Linked DNA regions of Homo sapiens: regions 2 and 3 are each linked to region 1. The links come from fine-mapping of genetic effects on gene expression. A gene starts in region 1. Each other region holds a variant in brackets. All regions are shown on one strand. Distances are between the middles of the regions. Region 1 holds the start of CEP164 (centrosomal protein 164). Region 2 overlaps CEP164 (centrosomal protein 164). Region 3 overlaps CEP164 (centrosomal protein 164).

Evidence for each region. PIP is the estimated chance that this variant, and not a neighbour inherited with it, causes the effect.
Region 2: its variant is fine-mapped to the expression of CEP164 in whole blood (TOPMed, PIP above 0.99). The same link has a PIP of 0.9 or more in thyroid.
Region 3: its variant is fine-mapped to the expression of CEP164 in whole blood (INTERVAL, PIP above 0.99).

Annotation. Positions count from the first base shown.
Region 1 is chr11:117,324,764-117,332,943 of GRCh38, reverse strand. CEP164 (centrosomal protein 164) reads right to left here and starts at 5,090. Exons shown (of 33, transcript NM_014956.5): 1 at 5,040-5,090. RefSeq lists a silencer at 4,773-5,022.
Region 2 is chr11:117,385,843-117,394,022 of GRCh38, reverse strand. CEP164 (centrosomal protein 164) reads right to left here. Exons shown (of 33, transcript NM_014956.5): 15 at 6,611-6,820; 16 at 3,115-3,246; 17 at 2,808-3,024; 18 at 1,720-1,797; 19 at 1,396-1,527; 20 at 897-1,019. Among named protein-coding and RNA genes, the nearest start is that of CEP164, 62 kb to the right of the region's middle. The variant G/C (reference allele first, on the strand shown) is at 3,251.
Region 3 is chr11:117,357,220-117,365,399 of GRCh38, reverse strand. CEP164 (centrosomal protein 164) reads right to left here. Exons shown (of 33, transcript NM_014956.5): 6 at 3,407-3,565; 7 at 2,862-2,996; 8 at 1,894-1,971. Among named protein-coding and RNA genes, the nearest start is that of CEP164, 33 kb to the right of the region's middle. The variant G/AG (reference allele first, on the strand shown) is at 4,464.

The DNA.
Region 1 (8,180 bases):
AACTGTGAAGGACATCACTAGTCAATTATGGCACCCTAGACATGGCCTCAGAACCCTCAACATTGTTCACTACGTAGCAGTTACCAATAGATGAGATGAAATCCAGTGAGATCTACTTGCTGCCTAGCCTGAGACCTTCTGTGAGCCAGAGTTAGGAGGGGTCACCCAACTGCACTCATGCATCTCCTACCAATCTCAGAATCAGGCAAAAAAGGAGTGGCTCACACGTTTCCTCCAGGAAGCCTTCCCAGCCAATTTTATCCTCTCCTGTCAACCCAGAACCACCTTAGCACTGAGCTCATAATTTTCATGTGTTCCCAGACAGATTTCTCTCAATATTATTATTTTTTCTTTCTTTCTTTTTGAGACAGAGGAGTTTCGCTCTTGTTGCCCAGGCTGGAGTGCAATGGTGCGATCTCGGCTCACTGCAACCTCCGCCTCCTGGGTTCAAGCGATTCTCCTGCCTCAGCCTCCTGAGTAGCTGGGATTACAGGTATGTGCCACCACGCCTGGCTAATTCTGTATTTTTTTAGTGGAGATGCAGTTTCTCCATGTTGGTCAGGCTGGTCTCGACCTCCTATCCTCAGGTGATCCACCCGCCTCGGCCTCCCAAAGTGCTGGGATTACAGGCGTGAGCCACCGTGCCTGGCCAATATTACTTTTTTTATGAAAATGTGTCTTCTTACCTCTCCTGTTAAACCACAAACTTCTGAGGGCCATGTCTCCTCCTCTGGAATTTTCCAACAAAGCCTAAAATAAGCCTATGTAAGCTGTCGGAGCTCAGTTACTGCTGTAACTGCTAATATAAAACCAAGGAATAGGCCGGGTGTTGTGGCTCACACCGGTAATCCCAATACTATGGGGGACCAAGGCCTAGGATCACTTGAGCCTAGAAGCTCAAGACCAGCCTGAGCAATATAGTAAGACCCTGTCTCCACAAATATATATATATATATATATATTAGCCAGGCATGGTGGCGTGCACCTGTGGTCCCAGCTACTCGGAAGGCTGAGGCAGGAGCTATGTGATCAGATGGAAAGGAAGACAGAGTTACATAAAGAGTGTAAAGTGGGGAGGCAGAGGTGGGAGGATCACTTGAGACCAGGAGTTCGAGGCTGCAGTGAGCTATGATTGTACCACCATACTCCAGCCTGGGCAACAGAGTGAGACCCTATCTGAAAAAAAAAAAAAATACACCAGCAATCTCAGAAGCTAGGAAGACCCGCAGTAGTTTTGGTCCACCTTCCTTCCCATGCCAAAATTTTCCTCTCTGTGCTTCCAGTGACAGGCGGCATAGTGGTCAAAGTACCAGCTTTGGAGACAGAAGACCTGGATTCAAATCCCAGCTCTCTCACTTAGCAGCTGTATGACCTTAGGCAAGGTGCTTCACCTCTCTCAGCCTCAATAACTGCATGTGTATAATTAAAACAATCTTAACAAAAATCAAAAAGCCTGAAAGTAAAATGAAACAACACTTATAAAGTGCCTAGCACAGTCCCTGTATACAGAAAAGTTACACAAATTTAGCTAGTATTACAGATTCTATTTTCAATTCCATAGTTAGATAATTCTTAACTATTAGAAGGTCTAATAGTAAGCCAATAATCAGGTTCTAAAAAAATGTTCCCTGGTATCTCAAGTCTGCCTTCTGCTCATCTGGGGACACCCTAGGATTCTCTAGCTAAGGTAGGCTAAGTATTCCCAGTTCTCTTCCATTCAGTACATATCGTTTCCCAGTCCTTCAATATTGTGGCTACCTTGCCCTGTACTTTGTCAGCATAGCTAGAGTTTTGCACATCTGCACACTAACAGAGAATATACACTCACAGACATAATGAGGGTTCTCTGTATATTTATTTCTTCCACCCTGCTCCAACAATTACAAAGAAGGTTGACCACAGAAAAGATTGACTGGAGAAGGTAAAGGGGAGAAGGTGGAAGATGTCAGAGTTGATTACGCAGTGGTAATGAGCAAAAGCTTTGGAACATTCTTGGCTTTCAATCCCAGCTCTGCCTCTTACTAGCTGGACAGCCTCAGTTTTCTCATCTATAAAATGAGAGTACTAACAATATCCATCACAATGTGTTGTGAGGCTTATATGATTCAATACATGTAAAGTGCTTAAAATATACTAAGGTCTCAATAAATGTTAGACATTACATTATTATGACTGCTATTCACCTATTTAAAAGGGTTTATTCTACCTTGCTCCAAAGGACATATCCAGCACCAGGCAATATAAGTTAAGGCCATTCAGACATTAAGTAATCACTTTTTCTTTGCTTTTTTTTTGAGACAGAGTATCATTCTTGTCACCCAGGCTGGGGTGCAATGGCACGATCTCTGCTCACTGCAGCCTCTGCCTCCCAGGTTCAAATGATGCTCCTGCCTCAGCCTCACGAGTAGCTAGGATTACAGGCGCCTGCCACCACGCCCGGCTAATTTTTGTATTTTTAGTAGAGATGGGGTTTCACCATGTTGGCCAAGTCTCGAACTCCTGACCTCAGGTGATCCGCCCGCCTTGGCCTCCCAAAGTGCTGAGATTACAGGCGTGAGTCACCGCGCCAAGTAATCACTTACTGAACACCCACCATGGGCCAGACATTGTGCGACGTGTTAGGGCTACAAACCTGATTACACATGGCCCTGAACTTGAGCTCAGCCTACCTGGAAAGCCAAACACGTAAACACATGACTACAAAATGTGTTACATGAATTAAAGGAAGTAACATAATATATAACAGAACACAAAGGTAAGGGCAAATAATCTTAGGAAGATCAGGGAAAGCCTCACAGAGGACAATTGAGATAGTTCTTGAAGGATAAGCAGGTGATCCCCAGGATAAGCGGAGTAAGGGAATTCACGGCAGAGGAACAACATGCACAAAGGCAAAAAAGAAGAAAATCATAAGGTGGGTGCAAAGAATTAATTATGACAACAAAAGCTTATAGCCACTGAACACTTCCTATGTTACAGGAACTGTACTGAGTGCTCTATATACATCATCTCACTTCATCCACTCAGCAAAATAGAATTATCTTCACTTTTCAAATAAGGAAACTGAGGCTTAGCAAAGTTAAAAAAAAAAAAAAAAAAAAAAAGGCCAGGCGCAGTGGCTCACGCCTGTAATCCCAGCACTTTGGGAGGCGGAGGTGGGCGGATAATGAGGTCAGGAGATCCTGACCAGCCTGGCCAACATGGTGAAACCCCGTCTCTACCAAAATACAAAAAATTAGCCAGGAGTTGTGGTGCCCACCTGTAGTCCCAGCTACTCGGGAAGCTGAGGCAGGAGAATCGCTTGAACCCAGGAGACTGAGACTGCAGTGAGCCAAGATCGCACCACTGCACTCCAGCCTGGGCGACAGAGCAAGACTCTATTTCAAAACAAACAAACAAACAAACAAACTTGCCCAAGGTGTCACAGCTAATAAACGGTAGAGCAGAATATGTAAGTATCCATGTCTGACTCCAAAGCCCAAACTCTTAACCATTCTGACATGACCAGAGTGCAAGGGACAGTGGGAGGAGTGGCAAGACAGAGCTCTAGAATGAAAGGCAAGAGCATATTATAAAGGGCCTGGAAGAACAGAGGCTCTATCCTGTAAATGATGAGGGGCCATCACAGGATTTCACAAAGGAGACTGGCATGACCAGATCTGTAGGTCAGATAGACGATTCTAGCCAAGAATAGTGGTGCATGCCTGTAGTCCCGTCTACTAAGGAGACTGAGGTGGGAGGATGGCTTGAGGGCAAGAGTTCGAGGCTGCAGTGTACTAGGGTCACACCGGTGAATACCAACTGCACTCCAGCCTGGGCAACATACCAAGACCCTGTCTCTAAAATAAATAAATGATTCTGACAGCTGCATAAGAACTAATTACAGGAGGACAAGAACTGAGGCAGAGAGACCACTTAGGAAGTTATCCTGAAAGCACAAGCAAGAAATTATGAACTAAGTCAGTGTCTGTGAGGATGGAAAGGAAGCGCCAGATTCTAGGGGAATTAAGAGGCAGAATACAGGACTTGAACTTCGGGAGAGAGGAGGGAAATCAGAGCACTAAAGCCAGAACACTGTGACTATCATTTCTAGATGTGTTCATTTCTATGCCTCGTCCAATAGGCAGCCCCACCTACTACACTGCCTAGAAGACAGGGCATGTCCGACAAATGTTTGCTGTATTTATTAGATGAATAAATTAAAGGGACAGACTTGGCTGAGTGAATGGTGAAGCCCTTCATTGAGATAAAAAAATACAAGAGGAGAAACAGATCGGAGGGACCGGGGAAGGCTGACGATGACAGTAAGCAGGTCTGAGCTCAGGAAAGAGGTCTGGCTGGAGTAGTTTGGCGAGTCAACGCTGAAAAGCTGATAACGCAAGAGATGGAGTGCGCCGAGTAGAAGGGAGCTTTCTACTGCCAAGGACTGAGTTAGGAGAACGGACAGGGAGTCGCTGAAGCCAAGTGAGGAGAGCGGTGCCAGAGGTAGAGGGACATTTTTAAATCCAATGCAAGAAAAGGAAAAAACAAAAAAGCTTTCCAACTTTCCCAGCTGGCCAAAGATGGCATAAGATTGGGCTAGCCCCGGATTTGGACCCGGGGGGAAGCCTGCCACAGAAGTATCCCAGCAAGCTTCGGAAGGCCTGGCCTCACTCGCCAACGATGAACAGAGCAAGCAAACCAGGGCCCCGTGCCCAGTGCCCCTCTCCCGCGTCCCGACCCGCTGCTCACTCACCCGCCAGACCCCCAGCCCGGGCCCGGTGGCCCGCTCAGGAGCCGGCGAGATTTCAAACGGAGGAACTGTCGCCTGGCAGTCCGATTTTCACTTCTTCCCTCAGTCCCCGCCCACACTCGAGCGCATCACGCTCGTTGGCTCGAGAGCGTGCCTCGGGTCCCCCGCCACGCTCGCTCCCTTCCCCGCCGCCCAACCCCTCCCTCGATGAGGTCCTCAACTATCCCCCACCCCGGAAGGCTCCGGGCGAGGCTCCGGGCGAGGCTCTGGGCGAGGCGCAGCTCCCCCAACGCCACCCAACACCCACCCGCTCCCCCAGCTTCCAGGGACGCCGGGGTGTTGCCCTGCAGCGCGCAACAAACACTTCCGGAAAAGGTACCGCCTAGCAACCGGGAGTCCCGCCTCCAGCAGGAGCCAATAGGTCGCCGGCTGAGAGCTGTGACAATGGATTGGCTCGAAGTCCCTTCGGTGCACGCAGGAGCTCTGTCCGTTTTCCGTTGCACGATGGGAGTGTAGTTTAAGATAGATAATGGGAATCCGCAAGAGGTTGAAAGAGTGTAGTTTAAGATAGATAATGGGAATCCGCAAGAGGTTGAAAGAGAACCTCATCGGCTGGGCGCGGTGGCTCACGCCTGTAATTCCAGCAATTTGGGAGGCCGAGGCGGGTGGGTCACCTGAGGTCAGGAGTTCGAGACCAGCCTGACCAACATGGTGAAACCCCTTCTCTACTAAAAAAAAAAAAAAAAAAAAAAGAGGACCCCGAGTTTAGACGTGAGGATTTCTGCCAGGACAGAGAAGGACTATTTAGAGTATTTATACTAATGTGAATTATCTAATTATCTAATTGATCATTTGTTAGGAGTATGATTAACATCAGGTGAATAATACAGTGGTCATCAATAATCAACCCATTGTTACTTTAATCAACAAAACAAATGTGAATGTAAGGTAATGGAGACGCGTCCACTCCCCATCTCTCCCCGCAAAAAAACTGGCTCTCCTGTGCTCCTATTAAACCAGTGAGCACCTGACCAGGAGTTAAACCTATTTTCTACTATCCATCTTTTCACCAAAGCCCAGGGTTCAGTTTGTATGTCTGCAAGATGGGGATAGTAATGTCTGTCATAACTATTTCAAAGAGTCTATTGAAGAAGAAAAAAAGTGACACAATGTGTAGCTCCTCCACACACCCTGTCGGGCAGAAAGGTTGCTACTAATATAATTCCGAAGAGTTTTAGTTTTGCTTGCACGGAGGGCAAATCTTCCTTTCTCTCATATGTCTCCAACCTCCTAGAGAAGTTAAGAGGGGCAAAGAAAGTTCTGGCCATTACATCAATAGGAAAACTGAGAAACAGACAAATACAGATGCTGCTAGTTGAGGAGGAAAATGATGAGGCCAAGCTCATAGAGCCGCTCCTGATAGGTTCTAGAGATGTAGCTGACTCAGGATAGTCCCAGTGCCACTCAGAGGCTGATTCCAGGATGAGAAACTCAGATTGTTGGAATATACAGAGCATATTCCTTGTGAAAATTATCAAAATCAAAATAGAGTCATTTGTTTTAAAACCCTGACAAATGGAGCCAGGGAAGACCATGAAGAGAGGGTTCTCACGCATGAATACCTGATAACAAAAACTATCGACCGGGCCTGGTGGCTCATATCTGTAATCCTAGCACTTTGCCAGGCACAGTGGCTCACACCTGTAATCCCAGCACTTTGGGAGGCCAAGGCGGGTGGATCACCTAAGGTCAGGAGTTCGAGACCAGCCTGGCCAATATGATGAAACCCCGTCTCTACTAAAAATACAAAAATTAGCTGGGCATGGTGGCACACGCCTGTAGTCCCAGCTGCTCAGGAGGCTGAGGCAGGAGGCTGAGGCACTTAAACCCGGGAGGTGGAGGTTGCAATGAGCCCAGATCAAGCCACTGCACTCCAGTCCAGCCTGGGTGACAGAGCAAGACTCCGTCTAAAAAAATAAATAAAATAAAAATTCCTACTTGAGCCAGGCACAGTGGCTCATGCCTGGAATCCCAGAACTTTGGGAGGCCAAGGCAGGTGGATCACCTGAGGTCAGGAGTTAAAGACCAACCTGATCAACATGGAGAAACCCCATCTCTACTAAAAAATACAAAATTAGCCAGGCATGGTGGTGCATGCCTGTAATCCCAGCTACTCGGGAGGCTGAGAGAGGAGAATCGCTTGAACCCAGGAGGCGGAGTCTGTGGTAAGCCAAGGTCTCGACATTGCACTCCAGCCTGGGCAACAAGAGCGACACTCCGTCTCAAAAAAAAAAAAAAAAAAAAAAGGTCCTACTTGCCCAGCCTCTATGGCATGTGTATACCTATTGCAATGCTACTTCTAAATAAATATCATTTTCTTTTGGAGTTTCCCTCTCTGTTATTTAGATTGACGTCATCATGTTTAAATTTAAATCCTTCTGCAGCAGTTATGCCTATACTTCCTTTATTCTTACTGTAAATGACAAATCATCGTCCCCTTTCCTCTCCATCTTCTTTAAAAGTCTTGGCCGGTCACAGTGGCTCACACCTGTAATCCCAGCATTTTGGGAGGCCGAGGCAGGCAGATCGCCTGAGGTCAGGAGTTTGAGACCAGCCTGGCTAACATGGTGAAACCCCATCTCCACTAAAAATACAAAAGTTAGCTGGTTGTGGTGGCAGGCACCTGTAATCCCAGCTACTCGGGAGGCCGAGGCAGGAGAATCGCTTGAACCCAGGAGGTGGAGGTTGCAGTGAGCCGAGATCTCGCCATTGCACTCCACCCTGTTTGACAAGAGCGAAGCTCTGTCTCAAAAAAAGAAAAAAGTAGGCCAGGCTGTGGTGGCTCACACCTGTAATCCCAGCACTTCGGGAGGGTGAGGCAGGTGGATCACCTGAGATGAGGAGCTCAAGACCAGCCTGGCCAACATGGCAAAACCCTGTCTCTACTACAAACACAAAAATTCACTGGGCGTGGTGGCACACACCTGTAGTCCCAGCTACTTGGGAGGCTGAGGCAGGAGAATCGCTTGAACCCGAGAGGCAGGGGTTGCAGTGAGCCAAGATCACGCCACCGCACTCCAGCCTGGGTGACAAAGTGAGACTCTGTCTCAAAAATAAATAAATAAATAAATAAATAAAGGTCTCACTGAGGGGCCAAAGGGACCAGACTGGGAAGGAATTCTGGGCTCACCAGCTCATCTACCACAAACCTGCACAAAACAGGGATTCAAAAAACCATTTGTAGACTTGGTCCCTATATCTAAGAATTTGCAATCTTTGCAATCAATCTGGTTTTTTGTTTGTTTGTTTGTTTGCTTTTTGAGATACAGTCTTACTCTGTCACCACCATGCCAGGCTAATTTTTGTATTTTTAGTAGAGACAGGGTTTCACCATGTTGGCCAGGCTGGTCTTGAAATCCTGACCTCAGGTGATCCACCCACCTCGGCC
Region 2 (8,180 bases), 61 kb before region 1:
TCATAATTGGTTGGGGGAAGGGATATGGCAAATTTCATCATGGGACTGCTATTTCTGCCCTGGGAAAGATCCTAGAAAGAGTCTGGGATACTGGTTCCAGTTACTGGAGCAGTAGTCTTAACACCCTGCAGGGTCCCAGCTGTGGGCTATAGTCAGCCACCCTCTACCCACCCATTGTTCACCCTCAATGTGAGCAAGGCAGGCCAGCTTGGGTAAACTCAAGTCGCTGAACTTTCCTACCTTAAGACCAAAGGCTTAAAATGGGGAGAATATCAGTATTACTTGGCTCTTGCCAGTCTATTTCTTGGTGTCCCAAGATGTTGAGGAACCCTGGTGACACAGCATTGCAGTGAGGAAACTGAAGGCTTTGGAGTCAGATGGCCTGGGCTTGAATCCTAGCTCTTCTACTTATTGGCTGGGTGTGATCTTGGGAAGCTACTTAAACTCTCCAAGTCTCAGTGCCCTCATCTTTAAAATGGAGACAATGATAGTAGATCCTTCCTAAGGCTGGTGTGAGGACTAAATGAGTTAAAATAGATAAAGAGCTCAGAACAGTTCTTGGCACACAGTACAAGCTCAATGTATGGGGGTTCTTTTTACTATCAGAAGAAAGTACAGCCTGCCTGATAAAAGAGGAATTGCCCCCCATTAGGTGGAGGTTTTTCTCATGTTTTAATAAAAAAGGCAAAAAACATCATCGTGGCAGGGTACCAGGAAGGAAAACCTCCCACAATCCCTGACCACAGTTTATCCCCTTCCTCTGCCCCACAGCCAGGTGGGAAGGACCCCGGGGTGTGTGTGCATGTGCGTGCATGTGTGTGTGCATGTGTGTGTGCATGTGCGTGCATGTGTGTGTGCATGTGTGTGCATGCGCGCAGGGGATGTGGCTGAGCTACCTCAGCTTCATACTGCTCTCTGGCCTTAGCCATCACTTGCTGGTGCTCCTCCTTCATCTTGTCCAACCTCCTCTCATGCTCCCCTTCCACTTCCTGGCGCTTCTCTCGCAGGAGACTGCTGAGCTGCAGGGGAGATGGCAGGGATGTGGCATGAAGAACCGAGGCGGACCAGCACTCAGGGCCTGCTGCACCTGAAGGTCTTACACACATTTCCCCAATCTCCCCCAACACACACAACACATGCACATCACACAGCCATGACACCATGGTCAGCACACAGCCATACCCCAACACCCCCTCCCCACATGCATACAGGGGCATCAGATTGGAGGAGTACCTGGCTTCAAGGGAACTAAGGCATAAAAAGGGAACTAGAAATGCTAACCCCAGCTGAGCCATCCAAAGCAAACTGGAGGCCGCTGAGGCTAGGCCGGCTCAGCTGACTGTAAGAGAGTCCACAACAGGCGCACACGACTGTGGAAGACAGAGCAGCACTCACCTCGTGCTCATACCCAGCCACGTGATAAGACTTCTGGTGAACTCTGTGCTCCACTTGCCCAAGGCACTTCTGCAGCTGGGCCTCCTCTTTCTGTTGAGCTTCCTGTATCTTCTTCTGGAGGCTGGAGACCACCTGAGGAGGCCCCCGCACACACAGGGGAGTGTGACCCTCAGACAGACTGTACAGCTGCTGTGTGGGGATGTGTTCTGAGGACCTGGCATCCATCCCCCAGGGCTGGAGAGAGAGGCTCGCTGCCTAGTAGCCAGGGATGGGGCTGAATTCTGCTAATCAGCCATGAAGGGGGCCCAGGATGCTGCATCTTACCTCCCGGTGCTTGGCCTCCAATGAGGAGCAGAGCCGCTCCAGCTCAGCACTGTGCTCCTTCTCCAGCGTTGCCACAGCCTGGGGAGGAGCAAAGGGACTGTGAGTGAAGCTGGCCAGGTACTGATCATGGTGGGAGGCGGAGCCAGGAAGACTACCGACCCCCAAGCCCTCGAGATCAGGGTCAAGGGAAGCATGGGGAAGCACAGCACATCTTTGTTCCTCTGAAATAACTCAGCCCCTGAAGTCTACAACTGGCAAATGAACAGGAACATGAAGGTCAGAGGAGAGGGGCATTTCAGTAAGTTTCGGCTCTCTGCTCCCACCCCCTGCCTTTAGACTAGGCCACAGATCCACAGATGGTGCTCATGCTGGTAAATAAGATCCAAGCCAGGGGGGCCAGGTTGGATGCTGTCATTAAGTCGGGCCATGTAGAATTTTCTTTTTATTTTGGTGAGGTGCAAAGCTGCAGCTATTAGACAAGGAAAACACTACAGCAGGAGTAGGGAAGTGCACTGTACTACAAGTGCTCAGAGAGACTGTGCTAAAACCTTCAGAAGCCCACCATCTGACTGGAGTAGAAGAGGGAGTATGGACAAAGAGAAAATCCTTGCTATATTGCTAGCCTCTCATCCTAAGAAAGGAGAGAAAAGTGGGGAGTGAGGCCCTTGCAGCTGTCCCTCAGAGACAGTGAGGGACAGAGCGCCTTTGTCTCAAAACCTCTGGTCTGGCTAAATCTCTTTCAGTCACGAACTTTCTCAAATCCACAGGACGCTCTCCCTCAAGCCTCTGAGGGTTCTCTGCTTGACAACCTCCAGCCGCCACTGCCATCCAGCCTGACCCTGGAGGAGCCTTGTGATGCCTGCTGCATCCTCTGCCCTGTCATGAGCCGATTCGGTCCATATGGAGTAATGGGCCCAGGTGGTCATCTCGCTGTCTCCCATGCCTGTGTGTGTGAGACCTACTCTCCACCTGGCTCCCCAGCCTGCACGCCCACCCGAGACTTGCCCTTCTTCTCCTTGTGCACTCAGTCCCTCCCCAGGCAGCCCAGACACAGGTCAGAGGGTGAGGTCCCCACTTGACTAGCTCACTTCTTTCCTCTCCCCTTCCAGCTGCTCCCTCAGCTGCTGCAGAGCCTTCTCCTTTGCAGCATTCAGGGCAGCCTGCTCGCTCTTCTCCGAAGCCTCTATCTCTTCCTTGAGCTGCTCCAGCATTTGCCTATTTTTCTGTTCCAAGCTGGCCCTCTCAGCCTTCTGTTGAGACTCCAACTCTTCTCTCAGTTTCTGCAGGGAAGCCTCTTGCTCAGCCCTGGGTGGACACAGTGGAATGGTAACGGGCCTGTGCACCCTGGGGTCGCCTCCGCAGGGCTGGGCAGCTCACAGGTAAGCACACACTTACCTGATTTGGTCCTCATCTGCTTGTGTGCTGGACTGGACCTGAGCTCGGAGCCAGGATAGCCTCTGGCTTTCCTCCTCTCTCATCCGGGCCTCCTCCTCCTCAATGGCTTTCTGCAGCCGCTCCCTCAAGGAACTGA[G/C]ATGGAAAGGAAAGGCTAGGTTGTCAGAGAAACCACAAAGGTCTTTCTTCTATTCATAAGCTATGGCTCTCAGCCTCCAATAGCCCTGTTGCCTGCCTAAGAAACTTCCTAAATCTTTTTTTTTTTTTTTCTTTTTGGAGACAGGTTCTTGCTCTGTTGTCCAGGCTGGAATGCAGTGGTGTGATCATGGCTTACTGCAGCCTTAAACTCCTGGGCTTAAGCAATCCTCTCGCCTCAGCATCCCATGTAGTTGGGACCACAGGCATGCACCATCAAACCCAGCTAATTGTTGAGATGGAGTCTCGCTATGTTGCCCAGGCTGGTCTTGAACTCCTAGGCTCAAGTGATCCTTCAGCCTCAGCCTCCCAAAGCACTGAGATTACAGGTGTGAGCCACTGCGCCCAGTCAAAGCTTCCTAAATCTTAAAGATGAGTCTAACCTTAGCCTCTAGGTCCACTGCTGCCTCCCTAATACCTCCCAGGATTACGAAGGGACCATGAACTCCCCTTTGCTTCAAGAAGCAAACTAATGGCCGGGCGTGGTGGCTCACACCCGTAATCCCAGCACTTTGGGAGGCCGAGGTAGGTGGATCACTTGAGGTCAGGAGTTCGAGACCAGCCTGGCCATAATGGCGAAACCCCGTCTCTACTAAAAATACAAAAATTAGCCGGGCATGGTGGCGCACACCTGTAATCCCAGCTACTTGGGAGGCTGAGACAGGAGAATTGCTGGAACCTGGGAGGCAGAGGTTGCAGTGAGCTGAGATCACACCACAGCACTCCAACCTGGGCAACAGAGCAAGACTCTATCTCCAAAAAAAAAAAAAAAAAAAAAGCAAACTACTGGCTTCTGGGTTTTGGTAGTACAGCACTTCTTCCAAAGGCTCCCCTCTGTCAACAGCTTCACCTCAGCATGGCACTCACTCAAGGATAGCTATAGCCACCCAACCAGATTCCACATTCTTTCACTCCGACAGACTCTGTTCTAGCCACATCAGCTGAGTCACCATCCCTCCATTCTACCACACTCTTCCTTCCTAGGTTCTCTGCCAAGAATTCCCTTTTCTATCTGGCAAACCCATATTCATTCCTCAACACTCAGCTCCCTCTCTGGGAAGTCTTTCCAACTCCCTACAAGCTCATCAATTCATCTTTCTGTTCCCATCACTTTACATGTGGACCTTTCTTATCCCATGCTACTCTGCACCATGCGTCACATGGCATCATAATTCATCTTCTGTATCTCTGTTTTCCTTGCAAGTCTGGGAGCTTCTCAAGAGAAAGAATCTTGTCTTAAAATCTGTTATATCCCAGGTACCACACATAGTAGCTGACATAAAGTAGGTGCTTAATAAATTAATTGAATTTGAACAGCATCATCCAGCCCCAAACTATAAGCAAGCCGTGATATCTATGAAAGGTTATCTTATTTACACACCAACAACAGTGGCCATTTCATCCTAAGCAGACATCCCCCTGCTTACACAAACCACATCCTTTTTGGGTAACTCCTCACACAGCCCCACACGACCAGGGGATGTGTGCTGTGCGCTCAGGGAATTCAAACCTAGGAAAAACGTGATTCGGAAGACAATTCCTTTGAAAAGCTTCTGTAGCAAATCCTAAAGCCAAAAAAAGACTTAGGATTCTTTCCTATTTCAAGATACTAACATCATTACTTTTTTCCATTAAGAGAGAAAATTTGGCCGGGCACAGTGGCTCACGCCTGTAATCCCAGCACTTTGGGAGGCCGAGGCAGGCGGATCATCAGGTCAGGAGATCGAGACCATCCTGGCTAACCCAGTGAAACCCCGTCTCTACTAAAAATAAAAAAAAAAAAATTAGCCAGGCATGGTGGCAGGCGCCTGTAGTCCCAGCTACTTGGGAGGCTGAGGCAGGAGAATGGCGTGAACCTGGGAGGCGGAGCTTGCAGTGAGCCGAGTAAGCCACTGTACTCCAGCCTGGGCGACAGAGCAAGACTCTGTCTCAAAAAAAAAAAAAAGAGAGAAAATTTGAATTAAGTAAAAATCCTTCCTTCTAGATTCCCCAGAAACCTTTTCTCTTTGTCCTATGGCTAAATTTTACACACAGCAACACAGTGTTAGAGCTGGCAGGGACTTTAGAAGTTTTAAGTCCAATCCCTTCATTTTACAGTGAAAGAAGCTAAGGGCCAGCCTGCCTGCCTTCTCATTCCAGAAATATTTGTTACAAGATCAGCTGTGGCTTCCAGAAATTTCTACCACATGGAAGTTCCCAGCAGACGGAAGGAGAGCCCATTCCTCAGAAAGGCTTGGGCATAAACAGAAACAGGTTCTGGTGATGAACTAGTTTGAAGAAAGCCAGGCCTTGAAGGCAGTGTCCACAGAGAAATCACTTAGTCAAGAATGCCTGAATATGCATTGATTTCCATTGAAAAGTAATTGCTACCATTTGTTCAGCAACTGCTATGTTCCAGGCCATGAATCAAGACACTTCTAGCATGCCAGTCTTCCCCACAACCTAAGAGGGCCTCTGGAGTCAGGGGCCTCGGGAGAGAGATGGAAAGCACAGTCAGCCAAGCTCAGGGTGGCCAGCAAGAGGGGAGGAGACTGGTGGGCTGGCAGGGACACAGCGCCAGGATTTCCTCCAAGGTGCTGCACCTTAAGGTGAGTCACATCCTGCTTGGGTGGGCCCCTGCCCCAATTCTCAGTTGGCTGGAAGAGGAGGATGCTAGGGGGTTGGAGGATGCTAGGGGGTTGGAGGTGTCTGTTCTTTGGGATGCTCCCTGGTGGAGGACCCACAAGGATGTGATATAAGGACAGACCCTATGTCAGTGCTTCCTGCGCTGGACTCATGAGAGATTGCTCCAACCTTCCCAGTACTTGTATGTTGGTTTTCTGTTTTATATTCTCTAAATTAAGCATAAATGTTTTATATATACTTTGCTAGGTATCATCTAAAAATAATAATTTTCTACCACTCTTGGATGTTCTGTACAAGAGGACAAGACTTAGCCTTTAGTTAAATTGCCAAGTAAATGAAATATGTTAACACCTTTTTGTAGTACCTTTCCCAACCTGGGACTGTGACAGATGGCTCATTAACAGCTCAATATCCATTCTCCCTTTCTTCCTTACCAACAGAACCCTGCTTTTATTCTACGGGGTAAAGAGGTCAGCTAAAGGACTACATTTCCGAGTGTTCTCTGCAACTAGGTGTAACCAATGAGATATAAGCAGAAATTGTTGGGTCAAGTTTCCCAACTTTAGTTGGTCTTAGTAGAACCATGGGCATCCCAGTGGTCCCCAGGCTAAGAGGGTGTCCCTGGCTCCTCACATCCCTGAAAGGCCCCAGGAAGCATGCCTAAGGGGAAGGGCAGGACCTGAGAGATTGCTCTTTCTGCTGGTGAAGCCGGAGGATCTCCTCTTCCTCCTCTTGGCACAGCTTCTCCCGCAGTTGCTGCATCTTCTCTTGCTTGGATTCCAGCAGGTGCCTCTGGTCTTGCTCGAGTACTTGGGCCACTGCCTCTTCCATGGCCTTTAGTGCAGCCTCTGAGAGCTGCTCTGGGGGAGCCACAGGCTCTGTGGATCGCCTACCATGGGTGGGGAATGGCATATCATCACAGGGTTAATGTCCACCCACCTCTGCATCCAGGTTAGAATGGATACGGAACATCACAGATGGAATCCTAATGGAGGGCCCACAATCAGGAGTCAAAGAGGTCACCCAAGGGCAGGCCAAGAGATACAGTCAATGCTTGTTCCATAGGACAAGCCCCATTGTGGCTGTTTAAGGCCCCAAGAGCCTAGGGAGAAGGGTAGCCCATAGCAGGCTCTCAGCAGACTTACGAGGTTATGGCCCAAGATCAAAATCTGAAGCTGCGGCTCAAGAGCTGGCAGCAGCAGGGAGAGAGTGAAGCTCTGTCCCTAATGGATTCCTTCCTAGAATGGCTCACAGCCCCGTTACCACCTCCCCGCTAGAGCTCTGCCTGCTACTTAAGGCTCATGCCAGCAATTTGTGAACAGTCCCCAGAGATTGCTTTCTGCCTCCCAAACTGAGTAGTGGCCAATGTATATGGGCCCATGAAAGAAGCAGCAGCAGGTATCCCAGCTCTGAGAACTACAACAGTCCAGGAAGGCCCAGGAATAGGAAGCTCCCCTATCACACCACCAAGGGGGCCAGGAGGAGATGCTCCCCTAAGCCAAAAAATGTAGCAAGCATGCACATGAGTGCCATGTTCCCCGTCTACCCATGGGGGCACGTTTTCGTCTGCTTAGAGTTAATTAAATGTTTAGAAATGAATAAAAGGAATTCAGAGCTGACCTGGATACATAGGAGGGTGGTGAGATCAGGAATAATGGTATCCATTAAAAAGATGTGTATAAAGTAATAAGGACTGTTATTTTGCTTGTTTTCTGGTTCTTCAACGAAATGCCCAAAGAGGAATCCTGAGAACATTCTGAGCAGGATAAAGCATGAGCAGGATAAAGCATGAGGAAACCATGAGCAGGATAAAGCATTTTGTCTCCCAGAGTGACTTTCCTAAAGGCCAGAATGTGTCTCCACGTCCAGGTCCCTCAATCTTACGGTGGAAAGTGGCCTCACCACACACCCTCCTCGCACAGCACTCAGGCTGTTGCAGGCCTGGCATGGTGGCTCAGTCAACCTAAGCGGAAAGTGTGGGCATGATCCAAAACAAAGAGGGCTGGGCAAGAGTCAAACAGGGGAGCTGGTCCTCCCTGCTGTGGACTCAGAATCCCTTCTCCCTCCAGCTCGAGCCCCGCTGCAGATGGAAAGCAGCGGGCAGGACCGGATTAGAACAGTAGAGGAAAACAAGGGCTTACGAATCCCATTGCAGCACCTTGAGACTATAGAGAGAGGAAGACAGGACAGGCTACTGTCATCTCTGAATTACCATAAAGACCTTTCGTTTCCCCTTTCCTAAAATCATA
Region 3 (8,180 bases), 32 kb before region 1:
AAGCCAAGTGAAGAAAAAAATATGACACAACCTGCCTGGACACTCTCTCTGTCCCGAGGTGGCTCATTCACTCATTCACAAGTTCACTCTCTCGATTGTTGAACAAAACATACCCAAGCACTTCCTATGTTTCAGAGGCAGCAGGCTAGTTGCTTCCTGGCCATACAGAAATGAATAGGGCAGAATCTCCAGCCTCAACTTGCTCATTCTCATAGAGATTGTCTTCTTCCTCCACAAGCAAATAAGTCCTCTGACACCCCTAGTCCTATACATGGTCAACCTTCTAGGCACAAAGCCTGAGCATCTCCTTTGATCAATATAGGTCTTACTGGTGGTGGAGAAGAAAATAAAGTTGTCATTTCAGGGAACTAAACAGATTGAAGGCTTTAGATTTAATCCTTCCAGACTAGGCCCCACTCAGAAGGAACAGTTTCAAAGCAGACCTATATCAGCTTGATAATAAAAACGGGACACTTAGAAAAAAGTGTCACATTTGGCAAGAAATTGTAAAGTCATAATCAAAAGGTATCTGACTGTGCAGAGCCAAAATGCTGAACAGTTTCTGAGGTTACAGGCAAAGTCTAACTACAAAAAGAGTCCTAGGCTGGGCACAGTGGCTCACGCCTGTAATCCCAGCACTTCGGGAGCCCAAGGTAGGTGGATCACTTAAGCCCAGGAGTTCAAGACCAGCCTGGGAAACATAGCAAAACCCCATCTCTACAAAAAATAGCCGGGTGTGGTGGCGGGCGCCTGTGGTCCCAGCTACTTGGGAGGCTGACGTGTACTCCAGCCTGGGCAACAGAGTGACACCCAGTCTCAAAAAAAAAAAAAAAAGCCCTGTCCAATGGCTAGACTTGGGTCACCCACAACTCAGGTCTCAAGTACCAAATCAGGGGCTATCAGCCAGCACATCTGAAACTTCAAGTGGCCTGAGACACCAATCCTGGCTCTTAAGGTAAAGTGATTTCCAAGAAACAAGTCAGAAATAATAAGGGATAATGAGAAAACAAATTTAAATTCAGGATATAAGCACTTCTAAAGTTTTACAGGCCAGTTTTGTGATCTTTCTAATAAAGTGTGAGTGACTTGTTTGATGTTAAGGTATTGAAAGTATTTAAAAGAACTTGATATATTAGACTTGTGAAAAGTTTAACTGATTGAGCCTGCAACAAATATTTAAATATTTGGGGAAATCTAATTGTTGAGTTCATGATTCATTGGTTGTATAAATACTTAGGGAATATTTAGAGAAATGTTATATTTAAATGAATACACTGGACACTAAACAAAGGATACATGGTAGGGAAAGCTCCTTTCTAAGTACAAAAACACATAGCTGGGCACAATGGCTCACACCTGTAATTCCAGCACTTTGGGAGACCAAGATGGAAGGACTGCTTGAGACCGGGAGTTTGAAACCAGTCTGGTCAACAGAGAGACCTCATCTCTGCAAAAAATGTAAAAAGTAGACAGGCATGGGTGCGTATGCCTGTAGTCCTAACTACTCAGGAGGCTGAGGCAGAGGATCACTTGAACCCAGGAATTCAAAGCAGTGAGCTCTGTTCACACCACTGTACTCCAAGCTGGGCAAAAGAGTGAGGCTCTGTCTCTTAAAAAAAAAAAAAAAAAAAAAAAAAAAAGCATTGGAGGTTTTAGGTATTACAATAACATAATGAGTGTTGATGTTTGTTTGTTTAGAGGCAGGGTCTGGAAGGGACAGGAATCCATTCATTTATTCTTGTCCTTCCCCAAACCCCAGAAATCTCATCTGGAAGGACTGGGACAAAATGGTTCTTTTTCCAAATATGCATTACAACAAAGTAGCAGGGCTTAATAAAAACAGGAGGGATATGCCAGGCTGACACATGTGCCTGTAGGGATTAGGGCTCTTACCTCATACTCAAAGTCACCCCCCAGTGCCCCAATGTCCAGGTGTAGGTTCCTAAGAGGCTCACTTGAGCTGTGGACACTCTAGAAACAAAAATGATGACAAGTGGTAACTCTGAAGAAACTGGTCAACCCAGGGTGAGGGGTGTGCAGAGGGAAAAGTGGGGCACTGCTGAGCTGACAGGCGGGCCCAGGCAGGGCTTCAGAGGACTCAGAGCAGGACCACCACTGAGGCAGCCTCACTAAACGGCTCTCCATCCAGCGCAAACTATGCTGTGCAACAAGCAAGTGGCCAAGGTGCTTTCTGCTGGCTGTACTTTCTGGATCAGATCTAGAAGACATAATAGACTGCTCAAGAAATGAAGCTGTAGGCCAAAAAAACTTCTTGCTTTTTTAAAAAGTAGCACAGAGATCAGCCAAAGGTGGAAACAACCCATATATATTCATCGACAGATGAGTAGATAAACAAAATGTGGCATATCCATACCATGGAATATTATTCAGCCTTAAAAAGGACCAAAGTTCTAATACATGCTACAACATAGATGAAGCTTGAAACATTATGCTAAGTGAAATAAGCCAGACACAAAAGGACAAACATTGTATAATTCCACTTATATGAAGTACCTAGAATAGGTAAATTCATAGACACAGTAAGCAGATTAGGTTTCCAGGGATGGAGGGAGAGGGAATAGGAAGTTATCATTCAATAGGTACACAGTTTCTATTTGGGATGATGAACAAGTTCTAGAAATGAATAGTGGCGGCGGGGGAGTGCAGAAAAAAAAAGAAATGGATAGTGGTGTTGGGTGCACACATTGTGAAGGTAATTAATACCACTGAATTTTAACTTTAAAATGGTTAAAAGGGCAAATTTTATGTTACATATTTTTTCTATCACAGCAAAAACATTTTCAAAAGGAAAAAATATGGCACAGAGGGTTTCCAGGCCAGGGAGAGGACTTCATCATTACCTGGTTGTCACTTTCCTCCTCATCCTCCTCATTGGTTTCTTCTCCTAAACCCAAGAGGCTGAGAGCAGTCTTGTCCTCATATATGGAGCCCAAGAGACCCTTTGTATAAGCAGAGGTCTTGAGACCCTGTGAAGGCTTCAAAATAGAGAAGGACAGTCAAAGGACTCACTTGGAAGACCTTTGGAATGACCTTTAGAATGCTCCTCCCCACTCTCTATGTCAATGTCTCCCAGATCAAGTGCCACCATGTCCATGAAGCTGACCTGGCGACTGCAGCTCACATCAATGACTCCCTTTGCCTACTCCTACTGCCTTGGCTGCAGAGACTTGGAAATCAGCACTGATGTCCCTACAGCATGGGTCTATCCTCCACAGCCCAGAGTCCACATTCATACAGGTGCGAATTACATTTTCCCAACTGGATTACGAACTCTGAGGACTCCACCGATTCTGTCTATTTCTCACCCCTAGGCCATAGTTCCTGGTATGGCACACGGGAGGCCCCACAGGAACTACAGACACTGAACGCAAGAGAACGTACTTACCAGCATGAGTTCTCCAAGCTGACGTCCAGACTCCACTGAGCTCCCCAGGCTCACGCTTTGAGATCCACGAAGAGCAGAGGGTGGGGTATCCACAAGACCTCGTAAAGGAGCCAGGCCCCCAAGAGGAACATGAACTGGGGCTAATGAGGAACCCAAGGCCTGTGCAACAGAAAACATCTTGTTACAACTCAAGAAACCAGGTGGCTCTGGGAGTGTCGGAGACAGATATAAAAATAAAACATCTAAATCCTGCACGCTCAAATTTAAACCACCTCCGCTCAGAGGCTGCTAATGAAACACAACATCCAGAAATTACCATTGTGCCAACTGTGTGAGAAATCACAGGCTGGTTTCCTGATTCTCATAAGTCTCATGCTGTCTCACAGTAAACAGTTCTTTTACATCTGGCAGATGCTGCGTGGGGTTCTGCTCTCCTTTCAGAAGCCATATAGGAGGCCGGGCTCGGTGGCTCAGTCCTGTAATCCTACCACTTTGGGAGGCAGAGCCGGGTGAATCACGAGGTCAGGAGTCTGAGACCAGCCTGGCCAATATGGTGAAACCCTGTCTCTACTAAAAAATACAAAAATTAGCCGGGCGTGGTGGCGGGTGCCTATAGTCCCAGCTACTCGGGAGGCTGAAGCAGGAGAATCACTTGAAACCGGGAGGCAGAGGTTGCAGTCAGCCGAGATCACGCCACCGCCCTTCAGCCAGGTGACAGAGCAAGACTCTGTCTCAAAAAAAAAAAAAAAAAAAAAAAAAAGCCAGGCGCAGTGGCTCACGCCTGTAATTCCAGCACTTTGGGAGGCTGAGGTGAGTGGATCACCTGAGATCAGGAGTTCAAGACCAGCCTGGCCAACATGGTGAAACCCTGTCTCTACTAAAAATACAAAAATTAGCTGGGCGTGGTGGTACATGCCTGTAATCCCAGATACTCAGGAGGCTGAGGCAGGAGAATCACTTGAACCCGGGAGGCGGAGGTTGCAGTGACCCGAGATCACACCACTGCACTCCAGCCTGAGCGACAGAGCGAGACTCTGTCTCAAAAAAAAAAAAAAAA[G/AG]CCATATAAGAAGGATGCGGGAGGGGAAAGCAGAGACAAATCCTCATCTACCAGAAGAATTCTCAGTTGATAAAGTTTAAAACTGATGAGTCAAGAAAAAGCAGTCTAAGTGTATTATTTACAAAGATGGATGTAAACACCACAACAGAATGGTTGCCTTTGAGGAGAGCTCTGTACAGTGAAGTGCTATACTTTCTTATATGCCTTTTAGTACTATTTGACTTTTTTAACTACGGACATGCACTACTCTGATTAAAATCTAAGGCCAAGGCATAGTGGCTCACATCTGTAATCCCAGCACTTTGGGAGCCCAAGGTAGGAAGATCACTTAAGGCCAGGAGTTCAAGACCAGCCTGGGCAACATAGCAAGACCCCATTTCTACAGAAATATTTTAAAGATTAGCCAGATGGGGTAGCATGCACCTGTAGTCGCACCTACTCAGGAGGCTGAGGAGGATGGACTGCTTGAGCCCAGGAGCTGGAGGCTACAGTGAGCTATGATGGCACCACTGTACTCCAGTCTGGACAACAGAACAAGACCCTATCTCAGACCAGCCTAGGCAACACAGTGAGACACTGTCTCTACAAAAAAATTAAAAAAATTTGCTGGACATGGTGACACACGCCTGTGGTCCTAGCTACCTGGGAGGCTGAGGCGGCAAGATCAATTAAGCCCAGGAGTTCAAGGTTATAGTGAGATAGAACCACTGTGAGATATAACCACTGCACTCCAGGCTGGGAGACAGAGCAAGACCCTGCCTCTAAAAAATAAAAATGACCCTGTCTGGAAAAAAAATCAACACTAACTACAAAAAAAATACACATGAGCAACAAAAGAAGGACTCTCTCCCCTCTCCACTGATGAGGAAGGTGGCTGAAAGGAGCCTTGCCGAAGGGCAGTAGTGGGGCTGACCAGGTCCCTTCTTTTCCCTGTTCTCCTTCCTGCAAGCAAGGGCTGGGGAAAGAAATCAGGCTACGAGTCAGAATTCGTGAGACCTCCCGCTACTCACAGACTCTCCAATTCTCAGTTTACTCATCCGCAAGATGGAGATGATGTGTGCCTTGCCACCTGACTAGGTGTGCAGAGAAGCTCAAGGAGATGAGTGCTAGGGGCCTTTGTGAGTGGCCCAGGGCTACACCAGCATTATAAAATTGCCACCATCACAGGGATTCACATTACAATAATTTAGGCTTATCAGAAGCAAGGATGGCAATCTGGTGACAATTTACAAAGACCCCTTCAAAATTCATTTCTCAAACTTAAAATGTCTAAGATGACACAAAAATTCCAATCCTCCCTAATCCCACAAAGACTGAAGAGAGAAAAGGAAACCCAGAGGCGGTCAGGCTGAGGTTCAGAAGATCCATCTTCTCACCTGTAGCCTCAGCCTAGGGGCCAGACCGGTGGGTGGGTTCCCAGCAGGGCCCATTTCTGCATCAGATGCTCATCAGGAAAGTAAGGTGAGAGACACTCCTGAGCTTCTGCAGGTCCACAATCATCTGGCCTGTTGTAGAACATGTTTGTGAAGGAGAAAACGAGCTGATAATCGTAACACCAGCCAGCAGTGCACTGGCTAAACACCTTCCGTACAATGTCTTATTTTACTCTCACAACCACCTGAGACTGGCTCTGCCATTATCCACAGTCCCCATACGAGCAAACGGAGGTTGGTGAGGTCAAGAACCCTGCCCAGGCTGGGCGTGGTGGCTCACGCCTGTAATCCCAGCACTTTGAGAGGCTGAGGCAGGCGGATTACCTAAGGTCAGGAATTCAAGACCAGCCTGACCAATATGGTAAAACCCTGTCTCTACTAAAATACAAAAATTAGCCGGGCATGGTGGCAGGTGCCTGTAATCCCAGCTACTGAGGAGGCTAAGGCAGGAGAATCACTTGAACCTGGGAGATAGAGGTTGCAGTGAGGTGACATCATGCCATTTCACTCCAGCCTGGGTTACAGAGTGAGACCCTGTCTCAAAAAAAAAAAAAAGAACCCTGCCCAAAGTCACAGAGCCAGTGAGGGGCAGAGATGGGATTGGAACCCAAGGCTATCTCTAAGACAGTACTTTATACCAGCTCTGGCTGTGGCAGAAAGAAGAGCCTAGGACATACATGGTCCCTGACACCTATAACCCCAGTACTTTCGGAAGCCAAGGCAGGAGGATCACTTTTAGGCCAGGGGTACAAGACCAGTCTGGGCAACACAGTAAGACCCCATGTCTACAAAAAAATAATTTTTAATTAGCTGGGTATAGTGGTACACATCTGTAGTCCCAGCTACTCGGGAGGATTGCTTAAGCCCAGGAGCTCAAGGCTGCAATGAGCTACGATCACACCATTGAACTCCAGCATGGACAACAGAGCAAAACTCTGGTCTCTTAAAAAAAAAAAAAAAAAAGGCCGGGGGAGGGGAAGAGCCCAAGAAAGCTTCTTCAAGGTTAACTAGGCAAACCAGGCATGCCCCTCCTGGTTTCAGCCCTTCAAACCAGCCTATGTATCAGCAAGCAAAATTATCCCCACACTGTATTTATGGAAATACAGACTCCTAACATGGCTGGCTAATTTGCTAACATGCTGGGGGCTTGAGGGAGGGAGACAAGCATGCTGAGGGCTTTGTTCTCCCAGGCCTTGACCAAATCAGCGATTAGTGGAGAAATTATACATTCCTGGCTCCTAGCTGATCATCTTCTATAGATGGCCATTAACTCTGAGTATGGGGCTATGCGTGGAGTTGTCCTTCAGAGCAGATAGACTTACTGCCACTGGGCTAATTAAAACTTTCAGGATAATCTGCAGCTTATCCGATATTTATAGTGCTACAGTAGTTATTAAAGCTAACAGAGAACCAGTGCAAGCCAGCAATTAGGAAGCAGAGGGAACAACTGGATAAAGCCACAGCTGGGCAACAACAAAAGAATAGCTGGAGAAATTCAGATTGATCCCCATGGTCTCTGATCCAACTTGACTTCTGAATGAAGAATATAGTGACTCTTTAAAGGGACAAAGGTAGAATGATAGGGCAAGGTCAGCCATTTGATAAATCCCAGTAGAGGAGGAAGTGAACTCAAGAGTGACGTCACAAATATGGTCTACACAAGCCTGACACAGGTTATCCATGTGGTTTTCTGGGGACCCTAGGAGGCAAAGAGCAGAAGCAGCTCACTGGATGGCAGAGAAAGGTTCTGGCCTCCGTCTCTCATAAGAATATTAGCTCTCAGCCCAGGCACGGCAGTTCACACCTGTAATCCCAGGACTTTGGGAGACTGAAGCAGGCAGATCACTTGAGGTCAGGAGTTTGATACCAGCCTGGCCAACATGACAAAACTCCGTCTCTGCTAAAAATACAAAAATTAGCCAGGTGTGTTAGCACACGCCTGTAGTCCCAGCTACTCAGGAGGCTGAGGCACAAGAATAGCTTGAACCCAGGAGGTGGAGGTTGCAATGACCTGAGATGGCACCATTGCACTCCAGCCTGGGCAACAGAGCAAGACTGTCAAAAAAAAAAAAAAAAAAAAGAATATTAACTCTCTAATCAGGTGCAGTGGCTCATGTCTATAATCCCAGCACTTGGGGAGGCCAAGGCAGGTGGATCACTTGAGACCAGGAGTTCGAGACCAGCCTGGCCAACATGGCAAAACTCCATTTCTACTAAAAACACAAAAAAATTGGCTGGGAGTGGTGGTGAGCACCTGTAATCCCAGCTATTTGAGGGGCTGAGG